Homo sapiens: one gene and its partners. The protein of the gene in region 1 interacts with the protein of each later gene in a pairwise test. Each region holds a gene or a part of one and is shown in the gene's direction. Other genes may lie near its edges.

Region 1 (4,868 bases):
CCCCAATGCACCCTCTCCTCACGGCTGCTAATCACCATCCCCTGACCTTGTGGGCGTCAAGCTCCACTTATGTGACAAACTGTGGCTACAAGCCCCACGCTCCCTCGAGACACACCCACAGATCCCCCCCACCGCCATCCCCAAACTGGCTGAAGAGGAGTGTGAGATATCTCAGCAGGGTTCCCTGACCCCGGACTCAACATCCACATGGCACAGCCCATAGAAGGGTAGCTCGGGGCCCACCCACAGTGTACCCTCAGGCTGGCGACATCAGGGTACTCAGGGCGACTGCCCAGGCTCCTGTCCTAACCAATAGACTTGACAGAGCAACTCTCAGGAAAGAAGGCCGACCATGAGTGTGCGGTGACATCCTTGCAACCCCACAGGCAGCGGGCACAGTCTCGATGGGCAGACACATCTCCCCAGACTGAAAACACACAGTGACCAGGCACGGTGGGTCATGGCTATAACCTGAGCACTTTGGGAGGCTGAGGTAGAGGCTGAAGCTCAGGAGATCGAGACCAGCCTGGGCAACATGGTGAAACCCCGTCTCTACAAAAAAAAACACAAAAATTAGCCAGGCATGGTGGCACATGCCTGTAGTCCCAGCTACTTGAGAGGCTGAGGTGGGAGGATCACCTGAGCCCAGGGAGGTCAGGGCTGCAGTGAGCCATGATAGTGCCACTGCACCCCAGCCTGGGTGACAGGGCAAGACCCTGTCTCAAAAAAGAAGAAAGGAAAGAAAACACAGACCCTCTGACCCAACACGTCTCCGCTGAGGAGCGGCTCTGAGACTGGCGACTGCTCGTGTCAGCTGTGGCGTTGCCTGCAAAGCAGGTCCAGATGCGGCCGAGCTGCACACACACGGGTTGGATAAGCCAGGGTGCGTCCAGCAAGGAAGAAAAGCAGGGAGAAGGGAAGGACTTAAAGACCAACCCAGAGCAGAGTGTGATGCTCACCACCTCTGCAGGACGGCGGGAGAGTTACGTGTCAGCGTGAGAACGTCTTCTCTGCAGCCTTTCACAGCTTGCCTAGGCTGAGTTCCTCTTTTAGCAAAAGACAAAAAAAGAAGGTGGGTTGCCTATGGCCAACAAGTTCTGCTTCCACATGAGGGCATACAGACCCCCCAGATGCCCACACTCAGCCAAGGACATGTAGACCCACTCAGATACAACGCAGAGCTCACCCACAGAGACCCCCATACAGGCAGACACAGGCCCACACACGTACATGTCCTAACTGGCACACACACACAGGAACACACCATGTACACACACAGGGTGGGGCAGGAGACCCACCAAGACACCCATGTTCACAGATAAGGGTGCCCAGGCCCACAGTGACTCCCGGACAGAGGCACAGATGCCTTCAGTGCCCTCTGCCCGAAGACCTGGGCACACCCAGAGGCCCCTGCATGGAGTCCCTTCCTGACACACAGGCGCACACGTGCCTCAGCCGCCCACTGAGGAGTCTGCCTGGGTAAGTGAATGCTGAGGAGACCCTGGGACAGCCGACTGCAGGCGCTACTGCAGCTCAGGGGAAGGTGGGGCCTGCCTTCCGGGCTCCACGTCAGCAAGGGGGATCCGCCTCCCTCCCTCACCAGCATCAGCACTGACACCAGGCTGGGAACCTCGCAGCCGGGGCTGAGGCAGCCAGCAGGGCAGGTCTTGAAACTCCTGAAACCTCAGCTGGAGGTCTGTCAGTGAGGACCACACCTCGCCCTCCATCCCTGCGACTGCCTGTACTGGCCAAAACCAGGAACACACCAAGGCTACCAACTTCTGGACTCGAAGCACTGGACAGGTCAGTGGAGAGAAGAGTAGCTGGACCAGCAGGGTCTGCAGCATCTCTCGGGAGGGTGTGAGGGAGGGTGCAGACTCCAAGACCCCTGAGGGAAGGACCTTCAGATTCAAGGGAGCCAGAGATGAGCTTGGGAGGTGTGTTTCCAAAGGGACCGCTTGATTCTACGCAGCCCGTGCATCTGCGGGTTGCTGGGGCAGGGACGGATCCACATCTCTTCCCAGGAGGGTGGCCAGCAGCTGCTCTCTGCGGGAGGAGGGAACTGATCTGCTGAAGTCTCACCAGGAAGAGGCGGGAGGAGGCCCCCACACACCCCACCAGGCTCCCTCTGGCCCCATGTCCTTGACCTGGCAAAGTGGCCGCAGTCTCTGCCAGAGAACCTGGAGTGGCTGTGCCCTAACAGACGGCCGGATCTCAAAGTCTCTGGTTGTTTTTCTTTCCTAGAATCCAGCCCAAGGAGGCCCCCAACCAGATACCCAACTCCAAGGCACCTCCCACCTGCCCAGGGCGCAAATCGTCAACGGTCCCAGCTACAATGCAGGCCGCTGGGCACCCAGAGCCCCTTGACAGCAGGGGCTCCTTCTCCCTCCCCACGATGGGTGCCAACGTCTCTCAGGACAATGGCACTGGCCACAATGCCACCTTCTCCGAGCCACTGCCGTTCCTCTATGTGCTCCTGCCCGCCGTGTACTCCGGGATCTGTGCTGTGGGGCTGACTGGCAACACGGCCGTCATCCTTGTAATCCTAAGGGCGCCCAAGATGAAGACGGTGACCAACGTGTTCATCCTGAACCTGGCCGTCGCCGACGGGCTCTTCACGCTGGTACTGCCCGTCAACATCGCGGAGCACCTGCTGCAGTACTGGCCCTTCGGGGAGCTGCTCTGCAAGCTGGTGCTGGCCGTCGACCACTACAACATCTTCTCCAGCATCTACTTCCTAGCCGTGATGAGCGTGGACCGATACCTGGTGGTGCTGGCCACCGTGAGGTCCCGCCACATGCCCTGGCGCACCTACCGGGGGGCGAAGGTCGCCAGCCTGTGTGTCTGGCTGGGCGTCACGGTCCTGGTTCTGCCCTTCTTCTCTTTCGCTGGCGTCTACAGCAACGAGCTGCAGGTCCCAAGCTGTGGGCTGAGCTTCCCGTGGCCCGAGCAGGTCTGGTTCAAGGCCAGCCGTGTCTACACGTTGGTCCTGGGCTTCGTGCTGCCCGTGTGCACCATCTGTGTGCTCTACACAGACCTCCTGCGCAGGCTGCGGGCCGTGCGGCTCCGCTCTGGAGCCAAGGCTCTAGGCAAGGCCAGGCGGAAGGTGACCGTCCTGGTCCTCGTCGTGCTGGCCGTGTGCCTCCTCTGCTGGACGCCCTTCCACCTGGCCTCTGTCGTGGCCCTGACCACGGACCTGCCCCAGACCCCACTGGTCATCAGTATGTCCTACGTCATCACCAGCCTCAGCTACGCCAACTCGTGCCTGAACCCCTTCCTCTACGCCTTTCTAGATGACAACTTCCGGAAGAACTTCCGCAGCATATTGCGGTGCTGAAGGGCCTGGGCACCATCACCCCCATCATCATGCCCATCATCACCCCCCATCATCATCACGCCCATCATCATCATGCCCACACCCCCATCAGGCCCACCCCCCCCCACCCCCACCACCACCCCCACCATCACCCCCACCACCACCCCCATCATCACGCCCATCATCATGCCCACCCCCATCACATCCACCATCACGCCCACCCCCATCACCCCCACCCCCACCATCACGCCCACCATCACCCCCACCCCCACCCCCACCCCCATCATCACGCCCACCCCCCCCACCACCCCCACCATCACCCCCATCATCACGCCCACCCCCACCCAGTTCCGGCTGTCTCTTTCAGGGGACGCCCGGCCTGTTCACATCCCAGTGCTGTCCTCTCCACGCAAGGAGACACAGACCCTCACACGCTGGCCACCAGACCTACAGACAGCCGTGGGCATATACCTCCCATGTCTCTGCTTCCTGGACAGCCCCTGGGTGGACAGCAGCAGGGATCCAGGTCCTGGCAGAGGCCCCCACACAGCAAGCATCCCGGGCCCACTTACCCACGAGAGACAGACAGATGGACAAGCCCCTTGGAAGGCTCTGGGACTCAGGATCCCTAATGACAGTGGTCGGGAGGGGAGGGAACCTGAACTGTGATCTTGACCTGGGCCACGTTACATAGTCTCTCCCCAAGATGGGGCCGGGGGGTGGTAAGTGCGGGCACCTCAGGCAGCAGCGATGCTGTGTTGCTGCAAAGGCGGACACCTGCACCGCATGAGACCCAGAAATCCACTCTCGTGGCCTGAAGCCCAAGTGGAGTTCCAGCAGGAGGCCCAGCCCCGCCGTGCCCATGTGCCATGGCCTGTGCTGCTGTGTTCCCCCTGCTGTGGCCGACGGTCCTTGCCATGGCCTGTACCCGCCCTGCTGTGTCCGACAGTCCTCTCCATGGCCTGTGCTCCCCTGTGCCCCCCTGCTGTGTCCGACGGTCCTCTCCATGGCCTGTGCTCCCCTGTACCCCCCTGCTGTGGCCGACAGTCCTCACCATGGCCTGTGCTCCCCTGTGCCCCCCTGCTGTGGCCGACAGTCCTCACCATGGCCTGTGCTCCCCTATACTCCCCTGCTGTGGCCGACGGTCCTCTCCATGGCCTGTGCTCCCCTGTACCCCCCTGCTGTGTCTGACGGTCCTCTCCATGGCCTGTGCTCCCCTATACTCCCCTGCTGTGGCCGACGGTCCTCTCCATGGCCTGTGCTCCCCTGCTGTGGCCGACAGTCCTCACCATGGCCTGTGCTCCCCTGTGCCCCCCTGCTGTGTCTGACGGTCCTCTCCATGGCCTGTGCTCCCCTGTACCCCCCTGCTGTGGCCGACGGTCCTCGCCATGGCCTGTACACCCCTGCTGTGGCCGATGCTCCTCTCATACTTTACTAGAGGCTACAGGGCCCTTTTGCCAGGACCTCTGGGCCACCACAGCCTAGGGACCATCCATCACTTGGACAGGCTGGCACCTGGAACTCTCTCTCCCGGGGTGTGGCCAGGGGCTTG
Region 2 (4,287 bases), on another chromosome or scaffold:
TCACACTCAGAGTCTCTTATTAACCGGTCCATCATTACTGCTACTGCCTTTACCCCTCTTGCCACCTCCTCCCCTCCGCCCTCCTAGTTTCAGTTGTGAAGCAAGCAGAAGCCATTCTATGATTGTCAGTTAATAATGGCAACACTAGGAACCAACATGCAGCAGAGCTGCTAAGAAAGGAAGTCAGATATCTTCCTTGAATTGTATAGTATGTTATCATGATATACTCTGTTTCCTTCACCGAACCAATCCTTTGAAGTCCTTCTGGAAATCAGTTCTTACCATCTTTTATATTTAGGTATAATGGTAGTCATCTGTTAAGTGTTCCATGTTAGGAAAGCCATCCCTTCATCATTTAAGAAAATGGAGCAGCATGTTATCTTTTACTTAGTTGTAGAAAATCAAGATCCTCTCATATTATAGCAAGGTTTTAGAAGACCCTCCAAAAAGTAAGGTATGTAACTCAGTGCATAGTATTAGATAAAGCTATACTCTGCTACTGTACTTAATTTGATACTTTTTTTTTTTTGAGATGGAGTCTCACTCTGTCGTCCAGACTGGAGGGCAGTGGCACGATCTTGGCTCACTGCAACCTCCGCCTCCCGTGTTCAAGCAATTCTCCTGCATCAGCCTCTCAAGTAGCTGGGATTACAGGCGCCCACCACCACACCTGGCTAATTTTTGTATTTTTAGTAGAGACAGGCTTTACCATCTTGGCCAGGCTGGTCTTGAACTCCTGACCTTGTGATCCACCCACCTTGGCCTCCCAAAGTGCTGGGATTACAGATGTGAACCACCGCACCTGGCCTCTTGATACTTTTTATGTTACTTTAATATGTTGCATGACAGTGCCTCCTTCTTTGCTGTAATTTGTAAGGTACTACAATGTGAAGGCCAGGTTATGTGGCATATATGCCATTATAAAATGGACAAGGAGCTTAAAAAGACTACTGCCAAGAAGCTATAGGTTGAAGAGACCACTAATAATTGCAAGCACATAAATTAGTTTTTTTTTTTTTATTTTTTTGAAACAGAGTCTCACTCTGTTGCCCAGGCTGGAGTGCAGTGTCGTGATCTCAGCTCACTGCAGCCCCTACCTCCTGGGTTCAAGCAAGTCTCCTGCCTCAGTTTCCCGAGTAGTTGGGACTACAGGCCTATGGCCACCTCACCTGGCTAATTTTTGTATTTTTAGTAGAGACGTGGGTTCACCATGTTGGCCAGGATGGTCTCGAACTCCTGACCTCATGATCCACCCGCCTCTGCCTCCCCAAAGTGCTAGGATTACAGGCACGAGCCACCATGTCCAGCCAATTAGTTGGTTTTAAATATATTTAAGTTAATGGACAAAATATTCTAAAAGGGCACAGTTAATGACGCCTCTTCCTAGTGAATCCGTGTTCTTTATGAGGTATCTTTTATAGTTGTATCTTTTTTTTTTTCTGAGATGGAGTCTCGCTCTACTGTAGCCCAGGATGGAGTGCAGTAGTGTGATCTTGGCTCACTGCAACCCCTGCCTCCCGGGTTCAAGGAATTCTCCTGCCTTAGCCTCCTGAGTAGCTGAGATTACAGGCGCCCACCACCACACCTGGCTGATTTTTGTTTCTTAGTAGAGACAGGGTTTCACCATGTTGGCCAGGCTAGTCTCGAACTGACCTCAAGTGATCCATCCGCCTTGGTCTCCCAAAGTGTTGGGATTACAGGTGTGAGCCACTGTGCCCAGCCAAGTTATATCTCTAAAGCAATGTGCAAAAATAAACTGAACTTGGGTTGATTAGGTATATTCAACATTTGTCGGGAGAGTAGATGTTTCATTTTATTTCAGTCCCTGTGTAATTTGTCTTCTCTAATGTTAAATACTATGTAGAATGTGTCTGTGTAATTTTATAGATACTTTTATTATGGATGGACATTCTAATTTGTACTGACTTTGGGTCTGTGAACTACTTCAATGTTTGGAGGTTACCAAAATCTTACCTTTCCCTTTTCTATTCTAGAATTTACATAGTACATGACGAAGTTAAGGATAAAGCTTTTGAACTAGAACTCAGCTGGGTTGGTGAATGTAAGTTATTTTTGTACATTTATTTGCCTTAGGAATGATCTGTACCACAGCTAATTTACAACTGAGTGTCCTTTCTAATATAATGAAAGCTAAAGCAAATTTACTAGGTTGTCTAATGAAGGGAAAGTTCTGCTTAATAATTGACTTAAGTTGTGAACACGTTATTTTTTGAAACATCCATTTCATGGTTTTAAGATACTATGCTATAAATTAATGCTCAGGATTTATAAATAGCATAATTTACTTTCATTTCCATAAGAACTTAATATGTAGGCACATATAATCTCATGTAGAAGCAGCACACAAAAATATTCGAGTATTACTCATAGTACAACTTTGCAACCTTAGGTGAGTCAGATATGTGGATTGGGTAGATCCTATGGTATACTGCAAGTTACAATATGGTACTCAATTTAAAATTCATTTACACATGTGGCTTAATTTACAGTAACTAATGGAAGACATGAAATTGTTCCAAAAGATATAAGAGAAGAAGCAGAGAAATATGCTAAGGTAAGCCACAGCACAAAAACTTCTCTTGGCCAGGTACAGTCAGGGAATCACTTAGCCCAGGAGTTTGAGACCAGCCTGAGCAGCACAGCAAGACCCCCATCCCTAATTTAAAAAAAAAAAAATTCTCTAACCAAAATTATGTGTTGAATAATATAAATAGACTGGGGTGGTTTCTATGAAATAACACTGAGAGTTCAGTTGAACTAAAGATAGAAATTTTCTAGGTTATCTCTAGTGGGTAAAGTTGCCTTGGTTCCAAAAAAAAAAAACTTGGGAGGTTTAGACTGCAAAGAGTTTTTTAGGACTTTTAATACTTTAAATATTTGTTCTTTTTTTTTTTTTTTTTTTTGAGACGGAGTCTTGCTCTGTCACCCAGGCTGGAGGGCAGTGGCACCATCTCTGCTCACTGCAACCTCTGCCTCCAGGGTTCAAGCGATCCTCCTGCCTCCGCCTCCCAAGTAGCTGGGATTACAGGAACATGCCACCATACCTGGCTACTTTTGTATTTTTGGCTTCACCAATAATACAGAGACGGGTTTTCACCAGGCTAGTTTCAAACTCTTGAACTCACGTGATCTGCCTACTTTGGCCCCCGTAAAGTGCTGGGATTACAGGCATGAACACTGCACCAGGCCTCTTAAGTATATATTCTATCAAAGATACAGTCATTGCATGTTAGAGCAACATTTGCTTAATTAACTTTGCTTGGGTATCTTATTCTGAAACTGTTCATTCAGTTACAAGTAGAGGAATTTAACCACTTAATTCAGGTTGTTGTAGCTTAACTTGCCCACAGGTGTGGGATATAACAATTTTAAAAATCAATTTTAAACACCTGTTTTCTCTTAACAGGAATCTCTGAAGGAAGAAGATGAATCAGATGATGATAATATGTAACATTTACTCCAGCATCTATTGTATTTTAAATTTCTACTCCAGTCCAATGTAACTATTTAGCCCTGGATTATACATACTGTCCAATTTTCATTAAATTTTTGTCTTATAACTATTGAAGTTTGGTTAATATCTGCTTTACAAAATTGGTGGGGGTAAATGAGGACATTTACTCAGTATTAAAATATAGATTTATGACTACTGAAAAATTCCCTGGTTAAAATGCTGCAGAATTAATTCCAAGACTGTAGATTAATTCAAAGCCCCATCTTCATCACTCAACTAGAATTTACAGATCATATTCTCCTGGGCTTTTGTACAAAAAGCACCTACCAACTTAGTGGACAAATAACTGATACGGTTTCCCACTTTCATATGAAGTAACTGGTGGTCATCAGTCACTGTTAATCTTTAGATGTGATACAGATGACAGATGTTTCAGTTTTGGATAATTTTTCAAAAACTGACCCTTCTCAAAAAAGACCCTTCAATACATGAGTCAAGGATGTTTTTGCTTTTTTCCTTTATTGTGGTGAGGGGCGGATTTAAGGATCAATAAAGTCCCTATTCTGTCACTAAAAAAATTTCTTGATCTCTAAAGATTAAAATAAAAATACCAACATCAGACAGCTTTCATGTTAAAAATCAGAATTTATGTTAAAGTGCTCTGTAAACAGAACTGTTACTAAGTGGAATAAACAGTACTGTGGCCGATAAGAATAACTTGAAGCTGAAAAGCAGTACTCACAGCAGGAACAATTTGAACTCAGGCCATGTATACACACCCTCTAGTGGACTCATGCCAGTGTCACTCCATT
Region 3 (3,536 bases), on another chromosome or scaffold:
GCTGAGGAGTGTTTTACTTTCAATTATAAAGTCAATTTTAGAATAAGTGCCATGTGACACTGAGAAGAATGTATCTTCTGTTGATTTGGGGTGGAGAGTTCTGCAGATGTCTATTAGGTCCATTTGATCCAGAGCTGAGTTCAAGTTCTGAATATCCTTGTTAATTTTCTGTCACATTGATCTGTCTAATATTGACAGCAGGGTGTTAAAGTTTCCCACTATTATTGTGTGGGAGTCTAAGTCTCTTTGTAGGTCTCTAAGAGCTTGTTTTATGAAACTGGGTGCTTTTATATTTGGTGCATATATATTTAGGATAATTAGCTCTTCTCATTGAATTGATCCCTTTATCATTATGTAATGCCCTTCTTTGTCTTTTTTGATCTTTGTTGGCTTAAAGTCTGTTTTATCAGAGACTAGGATTGCAACCCCTGCTTACGTTGCTTTCCATTTGCTTGGTACATTTTCCTCCATTCCTTTATTTTGAGCCTATGTGTGTCTTTGCAAGTGAGATGGGTCTCCTGAATACAGCACACTGACGGGTCATGACTCTTCATCCAATTTGCCAGTCTGTGTCCAGCTATTATTTCTATGAAATAATATTTTTCCACTGTAGTCTGACTTTGCCAGGTAGTCCTCCAACAGAGCCCTTAGCCATACTCATCAAAGGTCAGAGGCTTCAAACCCTGCAGCCTATGGGCCCCCACCAAGCACTCAGTGGACCCCTGGCCTAATTTTGGAAAGCCCTGCAGCCTAGAGCATCATCAGAGCCTCTGCCTTTGCCATTTCAAAGATTTAGTAGAAAATAGCGATCATAGAGTGAGGAGATGAGGGATCCATGATCAGAACTTTGGGGGCTTACTAGCGCACAGGTATGGTCCCGGGCACAGGCATGGGCTGATACACACAGGTGTATAGGTATTTGTGAGACAAGGCTCTGCAATCAGACCCTTTTATTTGTACATTTACTATGACAATGTCCAGGAGCCAACAGTAGAACTAATACATTCTGATGACTTTCTGGCCCATAAGGGAAGAGACCTTGGAGCTCCCAAGGACACCATTGCAGGTGATGTTGCCCGAGATGTGAGAGGAGAAGGTGTGAACACTATTGTGCACACCACCGGGGGAAGGCCCCATAACAGTTCAACGTGAAATGAAACAAAGGTGCTTGCCCCTCATCTCCATCCCTACTGTGCTGGGCCTGCAGCTGCCTCCCTGCTCCCCTCTGCGAGCCAATCTCTGCCCAGGAAGACACTATTCCCTCACACCTGCCCCAGGGCTCACCCCCAGCAGAAATATGCCCCATGGTTCCCACTGACAACCAGCAGTGTCAACCCACAGGGTGGATCTCGCCGTGTGGCCAGGCCAACTGAGCATCTTCAAACTTGTCCACAGCAGAACACATCTCTCCCTTTCCTCAAGGCCCAGAAACTGAGGTTCTCCTAACCTCATCCCTCCTTAGGTGTAGAAGTCTTTTTTTAAGTGCAAACTCCTCCTGGGATGGAGCAGAGGGCTGTCAATTCCAGAATATCTCCTAACTGCCACTGTCCCTGCTTCTGCAGTGTGCTTTGATGCAATCAATATATTTCTACTAGTTTATCTCTGTGGACAAGCCCACATTAGGGAAGCCCTAACTCCAGTCAGGAGCCTCACAAACCAGAACATCCACAAACAATGAACCAACACTACTAACACAACAGTGCCTACAACAACAACAAGGAAGAGGAAGGCTTCTCGAAGCCAGGCAGGGGCAGCACAATCAACACAGAGGGGTATAAAGGTTCCGACCACTCAGAGGCCTGGCACGATCACTCACTCACTCCCTCACTCACTCCCACACTCACTCACTCACGTCTCCCCCAGCTCACCTCCTCCCCACCCCAGCATGGCCACGTCTACCATGTCCGTCTGCTCCAGCGCTTACTCTGACTCCTGGCAGGTGGACGCCTGCCCAGAGAGCTGCTGTGAGCCCCCCTGCTGCGCCACCAGCTGCTGCGCCCCGGCCCCCTGCCTGACCCTGGTCTGCACCCCAGTGAGCTGTGTGTCCAGCCCCTGCTGCCAGGCGGCCTGTGAGCCCAGCCCCTGCCAGTCAGGCTGCACCAGCTCCTGCACGCCCTCGTGCTGCCAGCAGTCTAGCTGCCAGCCAGCTTGCTGCACATCCTCCCCCTGCCAGCAGGCCTGCTGCGTGCCTGTCTGCTGCAAGCCAGTCTGCTGTGTGCCCGTCTGCTGCAAGCCTGTCTGCTGCAAGCCCATCTGCTGTGTGCCCGTCTGCTCTGGGGCTTCCTCTTCATGCTGCCAGCAGTCTAGCCGCCAGCCGGCTTGCTGCACCACCTCCTGCTGCAGACCCTCCTCCTCCGTGTCCCTCCTCTGCCGCCCCGTGTGCAGGTCCACCTGCTGTGTGCCCATCCCCTCCTGCTGTGCCCCTGCCTCCACCTGCCAGCCCAGCTGCTGCCGCCCGGCCTCCTGCGTGTCCCTCCTCTGCCGCCCCACGTGCTCCCGCCTCTCTTCCGCGTGCTGCGGCCTCTCCTCAGGCCAGAAGTCCAGCTGCTGACGGGCAGGTCCCGTTTCTCCAGAGTTGTTCCAGGGCCATCTCTGACTTCCGAAAATCCTTGCAGCCCTGAGCCCTGTCTGAGTCTCCTCTGCCCATAGCCACTGCACCTCCAGCCAGCAATGCTGAGCTTTCATGCCGATTCCCTCCAGGCATGCATCTCTCCCACACCCTCATCTCCATGCTGGCCAGCCGGTGGTCACTGTGTCCTGCCCCATGTGAGTGATCAGTCTGTCAACAAATAAAGTCACCAATGTGCCCTCTCAGAGGTCTTTTTTGCATATCTGGCAAACCCTGTGGGAAGAACTTCAACGTGCCGCGTGGGGTGGGAGCTTCGGGACTCTGGCCTTGAGCTGCATCCAGGCTGACAGCACCAGGGGCGGAGGCAGTCCTGACTTCCCGCTGTGCGGGGTCTGCTGTTGTGGGGTTCTCCTGCCAGCCTCAGCGTCTCCAGGCCCCGGGGGTGCTTCTCTGTGAATCCCCCACACCCACCCGGCCCGGCCTCTCCCTGGGCTCAGCTCCTCCCCCTCTCTCCTTCCTCTGCCTGTCTGACCCCCACTCATCATCTTCTCACCAGCCCTCTCTTATTAAATAAAATAAATATTTCTCATTCCTGGAAGACATTTTAGAGCTGATCTCTTATTTCAAATATCTGTGCACGGTCATCCCAATGCCTGAAGTCTCTGTGGGTCCATTTCAGCTTTCTGTCATTTCCACCAGTTCTCGCTCATGGTGTCGTTTCCTTGTGTGCTTCACTGTTTGCAGCTGAGTAACCACCTTTGTCCTTGGAAAGTATTTGTGGGCATTTTTGAGGCCTCTAAGACAGGTGTGTTTTCTTTTGCCTTATGTGAGGAACCCTCTCATGTAGCCGACAAAACCTATGGCAGCACCTGCAGCTTTGTCACCAACAGGAATGAGATGCGTGGCGTCACATTATGCCGGCCGCAAATGCTCAAAACCTCATTCTGGCCACTGCTGTTTCATAATT
Region 4 (2,651 bases), on another chromosome or scaffold:
CTTCACATGTAGCTATCATTTTATATATGATTCTAAACCGTGGCAAAGACTTTGATTTTTGACTTCGTTGATTCTGGGTATATAGTAAGAAAAGGACTTCTATTAAAAATCTGAATTTTAAAACAATTCCAGAATTACTCAAAGATTTATTGGCATCATGACTCCCTGAGATGGCACAAGACAAGAGTTACATCTCTTCCCAAATGTATAACCTCAATCTACATATGAGGAAACCTTAGACAGATTCAATTGGGGAATATTCCACAAAATATCTGGCTCTCTAAAATTGTAAGGTCATAAAAGCCAAGAAAAGACGAATGAACCATGAGCAATTGGAGGTGACTAAGAAGTATAAAAACCAAATGCAATGTGAATTGGATCCAAGAACAGAAAAAAAGAACATTAAAATAAATATGTGAATAGTGCTACAATGAACCATGGTCCTAGAACTTAAAATAAAATAAGTTAATAATAACAGAAAAATGGTAAAATAAAGTCTGCAGTTTAGTTAAGAATACTGTACACAGTTAATTTCTTTGGTGTGATAAGTGGATTATGGTTATGAAAGATATTAATATTAGGGATGTTGAATGATGGATATATGGAAATTTTCTATACTATTTTGACAACTATCTCTATGCCTGAGATTATTTTAAGATAAGAAGTTAAAAGAGAATATAAAACTATTGTTCCATTTCATTGACTTGGTCACTTATTAATTCTTTTATAAATCAAGAAAATAACTTACATTTTCTTGTTCTTCCGTAGAGGTTGAACATAAAGGAAAATTAGACTCACTGGTATAAGTAGAAAAATACAACAAATTTTTCTCAGATCTGGTTTTCTAGAATTTTTAATTAGTTGAATTATTATCAACATCATGGCTTTAGTATAGAAAAGACACTAAATCCCTGAAAAAAGTATTATTTGGATAAAGAGAGCAGAAATACTAAAAGGGCAAAGTTATTGTTTGCTGAATGTTGTGCAAAAGAGTACAATTAATTGGGGCCTAGAGCAAATAAGAGTGTAACTAACAAAAGTCTTTCTTGATGTAAAGGATGGCTATAGAAAGTCTAGTTTGAGGCAGGATTATATGAGTGTGAGTGTGTGAGGTCTCCTTTCATCAGAGCCCTCAATCAGATAAGGGGAGCCCAAATTGCAAGGCCAAACAAAACAAGCCTCCTTAATACCTCTGCAGCATTATCTTACAATTGAGAAAAAACAAACTAATTATATTAGTCAAAAAATTAGCCAGTGGTATGCTACCTCTGCTGGATCATTCCCATCCTGAGGCATATAAAAGGACTTCTACAGGAAGTATCCATACTGAAGTCACCTACACTCCTTCCTACCCAAGGACAACCTCCACAACCATCACGATGTGCGGCAGCTACTACGGAAACTACTACGGCGACCATGGCTATGGGTGCTGTGGATACGAAGGCCTAGGCTATGGCTATGGAAGCCTGCGCTGTGGCTATAGCTCCTGCTGTGGCTATGGTCATGGCTACGGCTCCCGCTTCTTCTGTGGCTGTGGCTATGGATGCGGCTCTGGCTACTACTATTGAGGACACCGTGGGAGACTCATCCTCTATCCTGTGACATCGGGATTCACCAATTCTGAACCCCGTATGCTCTGAGCTCGGGGCTGGATGAAGATTATCTTATATTAAAAGTTTCTGATGTGATTTATCTGAAGACTGACCCTCCCACCCCCAGTACCCTCTGGATCTAGTATTTTCAACTTCCTTTTCTGCATTTAATGCATGAAAATTAAAATAATGTAAAATTCATCCTATGAACTCCTGTGGTCTCTCATCAAGATGATGCTGTTATAGATCTTGCTTTTTGATTTTCATGCAGGAACTTATTTTCTGTTTTCCTAATACACTTTTTCAATCTGGAATTACCATCCTGATTTTCTTTTCATTAGTATCCAGTATTTATCTTTTTAGCTTTCTTCCCAATTTATGTTAACCTAACAATGTCTCAACGTAACCCATGTTATCACTGCTTCAATAGAATAGAAAACCGAGCATGAACAGAGCAGAAAACCGTGCATCATTTATGGGTTGATTATTTGCGTATGAAAATCATTTACTGTCAAACTTGTTCTATGTAGTTCATATCACAACTCTACATAAATAATTTATAATCTAAATAACCATAATTAAGTAGCATTTATTAGCCGTTTAGCATAGAGCAATCACTGTGCCAAGTTTTTAACGTACATCATCTCAAATGAGCCTCAGAATGAATGCATGATGTGTTAAAATTTTCCCCATTTTCCTGTAATCCCACCACTTTGGGAAGCTGAGACAGGTGGATCATTTGAGGTCAGGAGTTCAAGACCAGCCTGGCCAATATGGTGAAACCCCGTCTCTATTAAAAATACAAAAAAACCAGCCAGGGGCCATGGTGGTGCACACCTGTAATCCCAGCTACTTGGGAGGGTGAGGTGGGAGAATCGCTTAAACCCGGGAGGCAGAGGTTGCAGTGAGCCGAGATTGTGCCACTGCACTCCAGCCTGGGTGACATCTTTTTCAAGAAAAAGAAAAAAAAAATTGGCCGGTCATGGTGGCTCATGCCTGTAATCCCAGCACTTTGGGAGGCCGAGGCGGGCAGATCACAAGGTCAGGAGATCAAGACCA
Region 5 (4,125 bases), on another chromosome or scaffold:
TGTTTAGATTTAAAAAATATTTACCCATAACTTCTTGGGATCTCTCTGCTCCATTCCCACCCTACTGCCTCTCCTGTAGGCTTCTATGACATAGAGAAGCAACTTTTGGTTCACCTGGATTGTAGTTGCTGACTTCAGGACCTTTAGAGAATGTTTAAATTCAGTGGGATATGCTTGGATGGTTCAGAGCAGCCTTACAATACATTTTAAAAATATCACACCCACAGAAATTCTATTTTGCCCACAAAATTTGCATTGATCTAGTTCCCACTCTGTGTTGCCATTCCTAGTGATCCTCCTCCCTACCTCTCCCATTATGGTAGAAAAAAACTCTGTGTCCTGGCTACATCAAAATCTGTTGGGGTGGATCTTGGACTCAGCACCCAGGGATTCTGATAAGGTAAGTTTGAGAATCCATATTTTTTCAAGGTTTACAGGTGATTCTGACAAGTAACTTGGTTGCAACCCACTGATTAAGTACATTTTTTTTTTACCTTCAGGTGTGTGTATGAGGTCTTTCTAAATTTAAGAAATTTCCATAACAAATGTAACCTTAGTCATTCCAGTGTTTAACACTTCTGACTCAAGAATTTTAAAATTGCTAACGTAAGAGATATAGAATATAATGTCATTTCTTCTGTTTATCTGGGTGCAGTATGTCTGCATTGACCCTTTAGAAGGGCTTCATATATTTAGATGATATAATAAATTCTCTACCTCTCCTTTTCCCTTTTCTTCTGTTATCTCTTTTTCCTTAAATGTCATTCATACATGTTGTTTTTTGACCCTTTATCTATATACGTCTGCAATGATTTTAGAGTAAAAAACTGCAAGGCGTGATTTGAATAAGGATATAAGAAATTTTACATCATTTTCTTTATATTGTGTTCACAGTCCATAGTTACATGCTTCCTTTCTTGATGTCTCAGTTCGAATGCCTAAATTTGAACTATTAATTTTCCTTCCACCCTTTCCTGATTTTCCTGTTTTTGTTTCCCCCCCTTTCTCTGCAAATGACTTGAAACCAAAAGGTCTTCTTTTCTTTCTTTGTCAGTCTACCATATGTGTAGTATTTTGGACAGATCACTGAACTAGGAGCCAGAAGACCAGAATTCTTCTCCAGGTCTGTTATTAATTGGTTTGGTGACCTTGTAGGAGAGCCACTGTTTTGGTCCTCCATTTTCTGATGTTCATTGTTCATGGTCACAGAGCCAATTAGAGTTGAGACTAGAATTCCTTTCTTCTGGTGTCCAGTGCCTCATTCACTGTCCACATTGCTTCCATCTCGTGTACAAATGCGCTTATGTGCACAAAAACTCTTATAACATCCTCAAGTGCTTATTGTTAATGCGTACATGAGGAAGGAATCGTGTATTTTCATTTATGTGTTTATTCTAATGCCCATACCCTACCCCTGTACCTGGCATGATGCCTTGGTATCTAATAGGCACACAATAAATACTTGTTCAGTCGAACAATTATTTTTAGCCACTTTCTTATTTTGGACAACTGTGGTACTCCTAGACATTTTAAAAATAGTATTTGCAGGAGTCATGCTTACCTTACATTTGGGGAAAAACCAAATTTTTCCCTTCCCCAGATGTTTCATTTAAACTTGTAATTTTGAATTTCTTTGTGTGTGGGGTTTCTTTCTTTCTTTTTCTGATCACTTCTGCAATTTATAAAGGTCACTTTGACTTTGGAATCTCACTTCAAAGGCACTGCCATCCACCCCCTGCCTCTCATTCAAGTTTGCTTCCACTGCTTCCTGTATTACTGTATTACTAGGCCAGCAATTTCTGTTATTTTGTCCAGAATAGCCACACCTTATTGTAATTTCATCATTTTGGGGACTAGTCATTTTTGGAATACTATTTTTAAAATTAGAGTTAACTAAGTTTATATTTATTTTGATAATTTTTTTTGAGATTTTTTTCATTGAGTTGGATATTGCAAACTTGTACTGGATTGAGAGAATATGTACATTTAGTAAAGTATATTTGCTTTTTTTTTTTTGAACCAAGAGAGTCCCCTGAACACCCTACTGACAAAAACTAAAGGTGAAATATGATGAATAAATATTTGAGAGAATCACATGGTGTTGAGTTGTCTCTGCCACATGATTTTGATCCTTGAGGGCCAGGTCTGTGCTACACACATTTCTTCTCTGTACTACAGAACTTGTCTGGCATGTGCCCCAAATTCAGAGTCAACTGAGCGGCAGGTCTTAGTCACAGCATCTGTGACTCCTGCTTTCCCACCTTTAGAACATTCTATAGGAGAGGCTGATGGTGAGTTGGAGTGTGTTTCTATGTTCTTTTTTCCTTTGAAGAGATAGGATCAGTTGAAAGCTGACCCCACCCACAGACTTTTTTTGCTATCTCTTTTAATTAATTAAGGAGTGGCTGAAATTTTCCTCTTTGTTGACTTATGCATTGGCGGGAACTTTAAAATTCATCTAGTCTTTCTGTCCATCCCATGCTGGATCTGATGTTTACAACATTCTAGTCAAGAGGTACCATATTTTCTCTCTTCTTGAACATCTCTTGTGGTAGACAGCTCTCCACAGCAGTTTATTCCATCTTTGGCCAGCTCTAATTCTTAGAAAGATCTTCTTATATTCAGCTGTAATCCATCTCCTCATGACTTGTCCTCATTGACATCTACTCAGAAATTTGTCTCAGAGTCCTGAGACCTGTGCAGGTGATAGGGACCCAAAGAGATGCTTGTCTGTAGACTTTACTGAGCTGACACCCAGCTCTCCATAAAAGGAGTCAAACCCAGTGAGGAGCATGTCTGGGGTGATTGCTCAGGTAAAGCATCTTAGCCCTACTTGTTTCATACCTCCCTGCACAGGTGGGCACTGGTGGGAGAATAACATTTATCAAGCAGTGTTTCCCTAACCTCTCTTATGATAAGAATAGCTCAGGTGTTCTCATGGAGATTCTGATTCAGTGCATCTGGAATGTCATCTGGGAATTTGTGTGTTCAAGAAATAGCCAGGTGATTCTTACATTAGGAAAGTTTTAGAATCACTGCAGAGTGAATCTGGGAAATCAAAGTGTTTGTTTTTGTTTGTTTGTTTTTTGAGAGTATTAGAGACAGGTTGCTTTGGCTAGATCCTGTGGTCATTTTTCCCCCTTGGAAATGCCTCCTACTTGCTGGCCTCACTTAGTACAGAGAAGAAAGCTGCTATGGTATAAGGTTAGTAAAGTTGTTTGTTTTGTCTTAAAAGAAATTTGCGAAATCCAGCATTTTCGGACTTCTGTTTGTGTTGTATGACTTTGTTGTAAGCCTCCTTATTCCTCCATTAGAATGTTACCTGAGATGTTAGAATGCATAGGAGTTCCACAGCCTTTTTGGTGTCCACTAAAGAATTCTGTCCTCAGCCGTTGCAAATGGTGCTTCCTTTGAGGATTTCTGCTTCATTAGCTCATGAACACATATTTGGTGTCGGCAGTTTCCCTCAGATGTGTTAGTGTGGAGAGATATAAAGGTCACTCATTTCTGGTGGTCCTGCTTTTGGGGTTTCTGGGCTGCTGCAGCAAATGAAATAAGGAAAGGAAAATAAAGGAGGAATCTAGGGCTTCTTGAGCAGAACAAAACAATCTGCAAGAAGGGGCACAGGATTGCTCCTCTCACAAAGACACTTGATAATACTGTCCTTGATAGGAAGAAGGAAGTGGCTTCAGATCTGAAAGGATATGCTCATAGGCTTGAGACGGGACAAACTGCATCACTGGTAGTGGTAGGAGGTTTGCCGTAGATCTGTTTTTTCTCCTGTCTCTCTTTTTTGAGGAGAATATTATCTGTATGGCAGAACATACATTGTGGTCTTAAAAAGGAGAGTAAAGCCAAGAAAGGGGGATGATAAAGCCATAGCTTGGAATAAGAAAAGCAAAGGAATTATTGTATTAATTTGTGTATGTAAATACATAGGTTTCCATGTAATTCACTGGTAGGATCACTAGCCCTTGGCACTAACATTTGCTATCTTTGTAGCTCTGCTGTCTTAGTGGTGTATTGGGGGAGCATTGTGGTGTGTTGTCACACTTAATTTGTGTGCTTCCCTTGGCATCATGTGGTAGCAAGTACAGGGTATTCTACTCTTCTAGATGTGTGGGA
Region 6 (4,125 bases), on another chromosome or scaffold:
CTCAGTAGCTGGGACTACAGGCGCCCACCACCACGCCTGGCTAATTTTTTGTATTTTTCAGTAGAGACACGGTTTCACCGTGTTAGCCAGGATGGTCTCAATCTCCTGACCTTGTGATCCGCCCGCCTCGGCCTCCCAAAGTGCTGGGATTATAGGCGTGAGCCACCGTGCCCGGCCTTTTTTTTTTTTTTTTTTTTGAGACGGAGTCTCGCTCTGTCACCCAGGCTGGAGTGCAGTGGCGCAATCTCAGCTCACTGCTACCTCCAACTCCTGGGTTCAAGCGGTTCTCCTGCCTCAGCCTCCACAGTAGCTGGGATTACAGGTGTGTGCCACCACGCCCAGCTAATTTTTGTATTTTTGGTAGAGACAGGATTTCACCATGTTGGTCAGGCTGGTCTGGAACTCCTGACCTCAGGAGATCCACCTACCTGGGCCTCCCAAAGTGCTGGGATTATAGGCGTGAGCCACCGTGCCCGGCTAAAATAAGCTATTTTCTAAAGCAACCCGACCTGGGTTTTAAAATGCAGCAAAATATGAGATGGGAGGAAGGGGGCTTAGTGCCCAAAGCAGAGCCTTAACAAGCTTCATGTCTGTGGAAGAGATCATTGTCCTATAGGGTGGTGTGTGCTCCAGCCTGACCCAGAAGTGGACTGCATGTAAGAGCCTTGACCCAGAGCATCCATGGACATCTGTTGAGCAGTCCACTAGGAGAGGGAAGCTAAGAGGTTATGCTGAAGGGGACACTGGCTATGGTTATGCTGAAGGGGAAACTGGTTTTTTCCCTGGTTTCAAAATAACAAAGGACTGTCATGGTGGCTCATGCTTGTAATCCCAGCACTTTGGGAGGCTAAGACAGGAGGATCATTTGAGCCCAGGAGTTTGAGACCAGCCTGGGCAACATAGTTTTTTAGTTTTGCTAAGATTCTATCTCTACAAAAAGTTTTTAAAAAAATTTTAAATGAGAACAAAAGATAACATGCAGTGCTTCCATAAAATTTCTATTGGTAATAGTTTTTTTTTTTTTTTTTTTTACTATTTATTCTATAAATGTATTTTTAATCATTTTTAGTCTGTCATCACTTTCAGAGCATTGACAACTCTTAAACTTTTTTTTAGGTGATCGAAGTATGTGATTTGACTAAAGTAAAGTTAAAATATTGGTAAGTTTTCTCCCCTGCTGGTATATGTCACACTTGGTATAGACAGGCCATATCTACTATCTTCATAAGTTAGTAAAGATTCACATCTGTCACAGATGTGAATTATAGCCTGGTGCCATGAATTCCTGAGGCAACCTTCAAGCCTGCTCAGTTTCCTGGAGAAGAGAAGTAAACCTCATTAAGAATATGTGATGTGTTTAACACTTCATGTATATGTCATCTAACTTAATCCACTTGACAAAGCCAGACCTCAGCTCAGAGGTGATGTGACAGTCTCCTGGGTCATAGCTGCCCTCCCGCTGACAGCCTCTCTTGGCACCTCTTTTCATGTTTTCATGAGTAACAGAGGTGGGACAAACCAGATAGGTCTGACTCCAAAGCCTATGCTGAAGAGAATGCCAAAGAGACCACCATTTTAGAGCTATAATGTATTTTTTAGAATTACAGCGGGGATGACATGCACAGTCCAAAGTTGTTGCGCCCCCATTATGGCAAGGCAGCATGCCTGCATCTAAAAATCTAGAATACTCCTTCCTTTCTTTCTTTCTTTCTTTTTTTTTTTTGAGACGGAGTCTCTCTCTGTCACCCAGGCTGGTGTGCAGTGGCGCCATCTCAGCTCACTGTAACCTCCACCTCCTGGGTTCAAGCGATAGAATACTCCTTTCAGTAAGTCTCCTTAACTGGCTTCCCTTTCCCTTTTTGAGGGTGTGAAGAGGACCTGATTCCTGGGGCAGGCTCAGGCAGTTTTGCTGATAGAGGAGTAGACAAGCAAATGTGTGGTACCACTGGCCCCTGCAGGTTCTAGTTGTCTTTTAGTTTTACTGGGGCCTTCATACCTCAGGGTCTGGTGGCTTCTCTTCTCTACCCTTTTCTTAAGAGTCACTGGTGTCATAAAGCCCCAGAGGATCAACTCTGTATATCAGCCTCATGAGAACTGACCTTCTCCTGACCTCATTAATGCTCTTATTTAAAAGTTCTCTAATTAAGCTTTGTATTTTGATATAATTAGAGACTCACCTGCCTGTGTCTTAAAAATAACTCTCCCAGCTACTATCTCACATGATCTGTGGGCCCATCTTGTGAAGCCTAGTATTAAAAAATATTTTTGTTTTTCAGTGGCGTGCATTTTAATTCTCAGGCCATAGCTCCTACCATTGAACAGATTGACCAGTCTTTTGGCGCAACCCATCCTGGAGGTAAGCCAAGTCCATCTGATTCCTCTGGTCATCAGTGGCAGTTCATAGCAATAAACCTGCCCGGTAGTGCCATCCCACCCCACTTCCTGGAGTCAGGCTCCCATAGGATTGTGGGGTTGGTACTTGGGTGTGAAGGAAACATCCTCCCCCTTGTTTTCAACCTAGTAGGCCAGTTTAGAAACAAGCCACAGGGAAGGTGTTGTCAGTCATTACTCCCTGCCAGGCTGGTTTATGTTAGCCATTTCAGATGCCAGTCAACCATGTTATTTTCTTCTCCCCCACCCCCAACAGTGTACAACTCCGCTGAGCAGCTCTTCCATCTCAACTTCAGAGGACTGTCTTTCTCTTTTCAGTTAGACTCATGGACTGAGGCTCCAAAGTATGAGGTTAGCCCTTCCTGTCCCCTGGTGTTTGTTGTATGTGTCTGTGGTATGGCTCAGCAGATGGTGTCATGGGATGGGAATAGAGGAGTGGGTATTAGATAGGCAGACTTTCTTTGGTTTCCATGTATTTGAGCTCTACAGGGTAAAGTGGTAGAGTGGGTGGGTTGACAGAGGAAGAACAATGCTCAGGCTGGCATTCCGAGGAAGAGGATACTTCCCACAATGGAGTGAGGTCAGGCTCACTTTTCAGAGATAAGTTCATTCATTCCTTATTTTCAAGCTCCTAATCAACAGTTTTCCTGGTGGCCTAGAATTTGGAGATTTCATCCTCTGGATTTTCAGTTACCTTTGTTTTTGCAAACATTTCATTCATCCTAGGGGCTGTGAAAATGATAAGCTTTCATAAGACTTATTTTAATTAAGGAAGCATTTCTGCATTTTCCCCTATGAAGAAAAGGAAAACTGACCGGGCATGGTGGCTCATGCTTCTAATCCCAGCACTTTGGGAGGCCAAGGCGGGCGGATGACTTGAGGTCAGGAGTTCGAGACCACGTTGGCCAACATGGTGAAACCCTGTCTCTACCAAAAATATTAAAAAAAAAAAAAAAAAAAAACAGGCCGGGCGCAGTGGCTCACGCTTGTAATCCCAGCACTTTGGGAGGCCGAGGCGGGCCTCCTGGCTAACATGGTGAAACCCCGTCTCTATTAAAAATACAAAAAATTTAGCTGGGTGTGGTGGCGGGTGCCTGTAGTCCCAGCTACTTGGGAGGCTGAGGCAGGAGAATGGCGTGAACCCGGGAGGCGGAGCTTGCAGTGAGCCGAGATCATGCCACTGCACTCTAGCCTGGGCGACAGAGCGAGACTCCGTCTCAAAAAAAAAAAAAAAATTAGCTGGTTGTGGTGGTGCACACTTGTAGTCCCAGCTACTCAGGAAGCTGAGGCAGGAGAATCACTTGAACCTGGGAGGTGGAGGTTGCAGTGAGCTGAGATCATGCCACTGTACTCCAACCTGGGTGACAGAGTGAGACTCCGTCTCAAAAAAAAAGAAAAAAAAAGAAAAGGAAAACCAAGCAGAATTAAAGGTGGACTTACATGGTTTTGGGGAGTTTACTGACCCAGAGCCAGAGAGCCAGGTTTAAGGGTGTACTTTGACCCTTTGACCTGAGCAGCTCTTGAAGACCATGAGTGACAGGGAAGACCAGAGCCTGAGTCCCATCACCTGTTGTGCCCTAAGTAAAACTCTTGACCTTTGTTTGCAGCCCAATTTTGCCCATGGCCTGGCTTCTCTCCAGATACCCCATGGAGCAACTGTAAAACGAATGTACATCTACAGTGGCAACAGCCTGCAGGATACCAAGTAAGTATAAGGAGCATGAGTTTCTTGCT

Evidence for each region.
Region 2: the proteins of NPBWR2 (region 1) and PSMA3 interact in binary tests that used the Homo sapiens proteins (3 or more experiments, as listed by UniProt).
Region 3: the proteins of NPBWR2 (region 1) and KRTAP10-3 interact in a two-hybrid assay, tested with the Homo sapiens proteins (one large-scale study listed by BioGRID).
Region 4: the proteins of NPBWR2 (region 1) and KRTAP6-2 interact in binary tests that used the Homo sapiens proteins (3 or more experiments, as listed by UniProt).
Region 5: the proteins of NPBWR2 (region 1) and NOTCH2NLA interact in binary tests that used the Homo sapiens proteins (3 or more experiments, as listed by UniProt).
Region 6: the proteins of NPBWR2 (region 1) and PHAF1 interact in binary tests that used the Homo sapiens proteins (3 or more experiments, as listed by UniProt).

Annotation. Positions count from the first base shown.
Region 1 is NC_000020.11:64,104,299-64,109,166, reverse strand, and holds the start of NPBWR2 (neuropeptides B/W receptor type 2), read left to right. Parts: upstream 1-1,601; 5' UTR 1,602-1,803; intron 1,804-2,244; 5' UTR 2,245-2,335; coding exon 2,336-3,337; 3' UTR 3,338-4,868. UniProt on the Homo sapiens protein: Interacts specifically with a number of opioid ligands. Receptor for neuropeptides B and W, which may be involved in neuroendocrine system regulation, food intake and the organization of other signals.
Region 2 is NC_000014.9:58,268,424-58,272,710, forward strand, and holds the end of PSMA3 (proteasome subunit alpha type-3), read left to right. Parts: intron 1-1,994; coding exon 1,995-2,062; intron 2,063-2,510; coding exon 2,511-2,575; intron 2,576-3,427; coding exon 3,428-3,472; 3' UTR 3,473-3,581; downstream 3,582-4,287. UniProt on the Homo sapiens protein: Component of the 20S core proteasome complex involved in the proteolytic degradation of most intracellular proteins. This complex plays numerous essential roles within the cell by associating with different regulatory particles.
Region 3 is NC_000021.9:44,557,065-44,560,600, reverse strand, and holds KRTAP10-3 (keratin-associated protein 10-3), read left to right. Parts: upstream 1-1,805; 5' UTR 1,806-1,885; coding exon 1,886-2,551; 3' UTR 2,552-2,811; downstream 2,812-3,536. UniProt on the Homo sapiens protein: In the hair cortex, hair keratin intermediate filaments are embedded in an interfilamentous matrix, consisting of hair keratin-associated proteins (KRTAP), which are essential for the formation of a rigid and resistant hair shaft through their extensive disulfide bond cross-linking with abundant cysteine residues of hair keratins.
Region 4 is NC_000021.9:30,597,603-30,600,253, reverse strand, and holds KRTAP6-2 (keratin-associated protein 6-2), read left to right. Parts: upstream 1-1,351; 5' UTR 1,352-1,379; coding exon 1,380-1,568; 3' UTR 1,569-1,664; downstream 1,665-2,651. UniProt on the Homo sapiens protein: In the hair cortex, hair keratin intermediate filaments are embedded in an interfilamentous matrix, consisting of hair keratin-associated proteins (KRTAP), which are essential for the formation of a rigid and resistant hair shaft through their extensive disulfide bond cross-linking with abundant cysteine residues of hair keratins.
Region 5 is NC_000001.11:146,222,001-146,226,125, reverse strand, and holds part of NOTCH2NLA (notch homolog 2 N-terminal-like protein A), read left to right. Parts: intron 1-4,125.
Region 6 is NC_000016.10:67,130,170-67,134,294, forward strand, and holds part of PHAF1 (phagosome assembly factor 1), read left to right. Parts: intron 1-1,116; coding exon 1,117-1,160; intron 1,161-2,276; coding exon 2,277-2,356; coding exon of another isoform or gene 2,357-2,647; coding exon 2,648-2,742; intron 2,743-3,998; coding exon 3,999-4,096; intron 4,097-4,125. UniProt on the Homo sapiens protein: Plays a regulatory role in autophagic activity. In complex with BCAS3, associates with the autophagosome formation site during both non-selective and selective autophagy.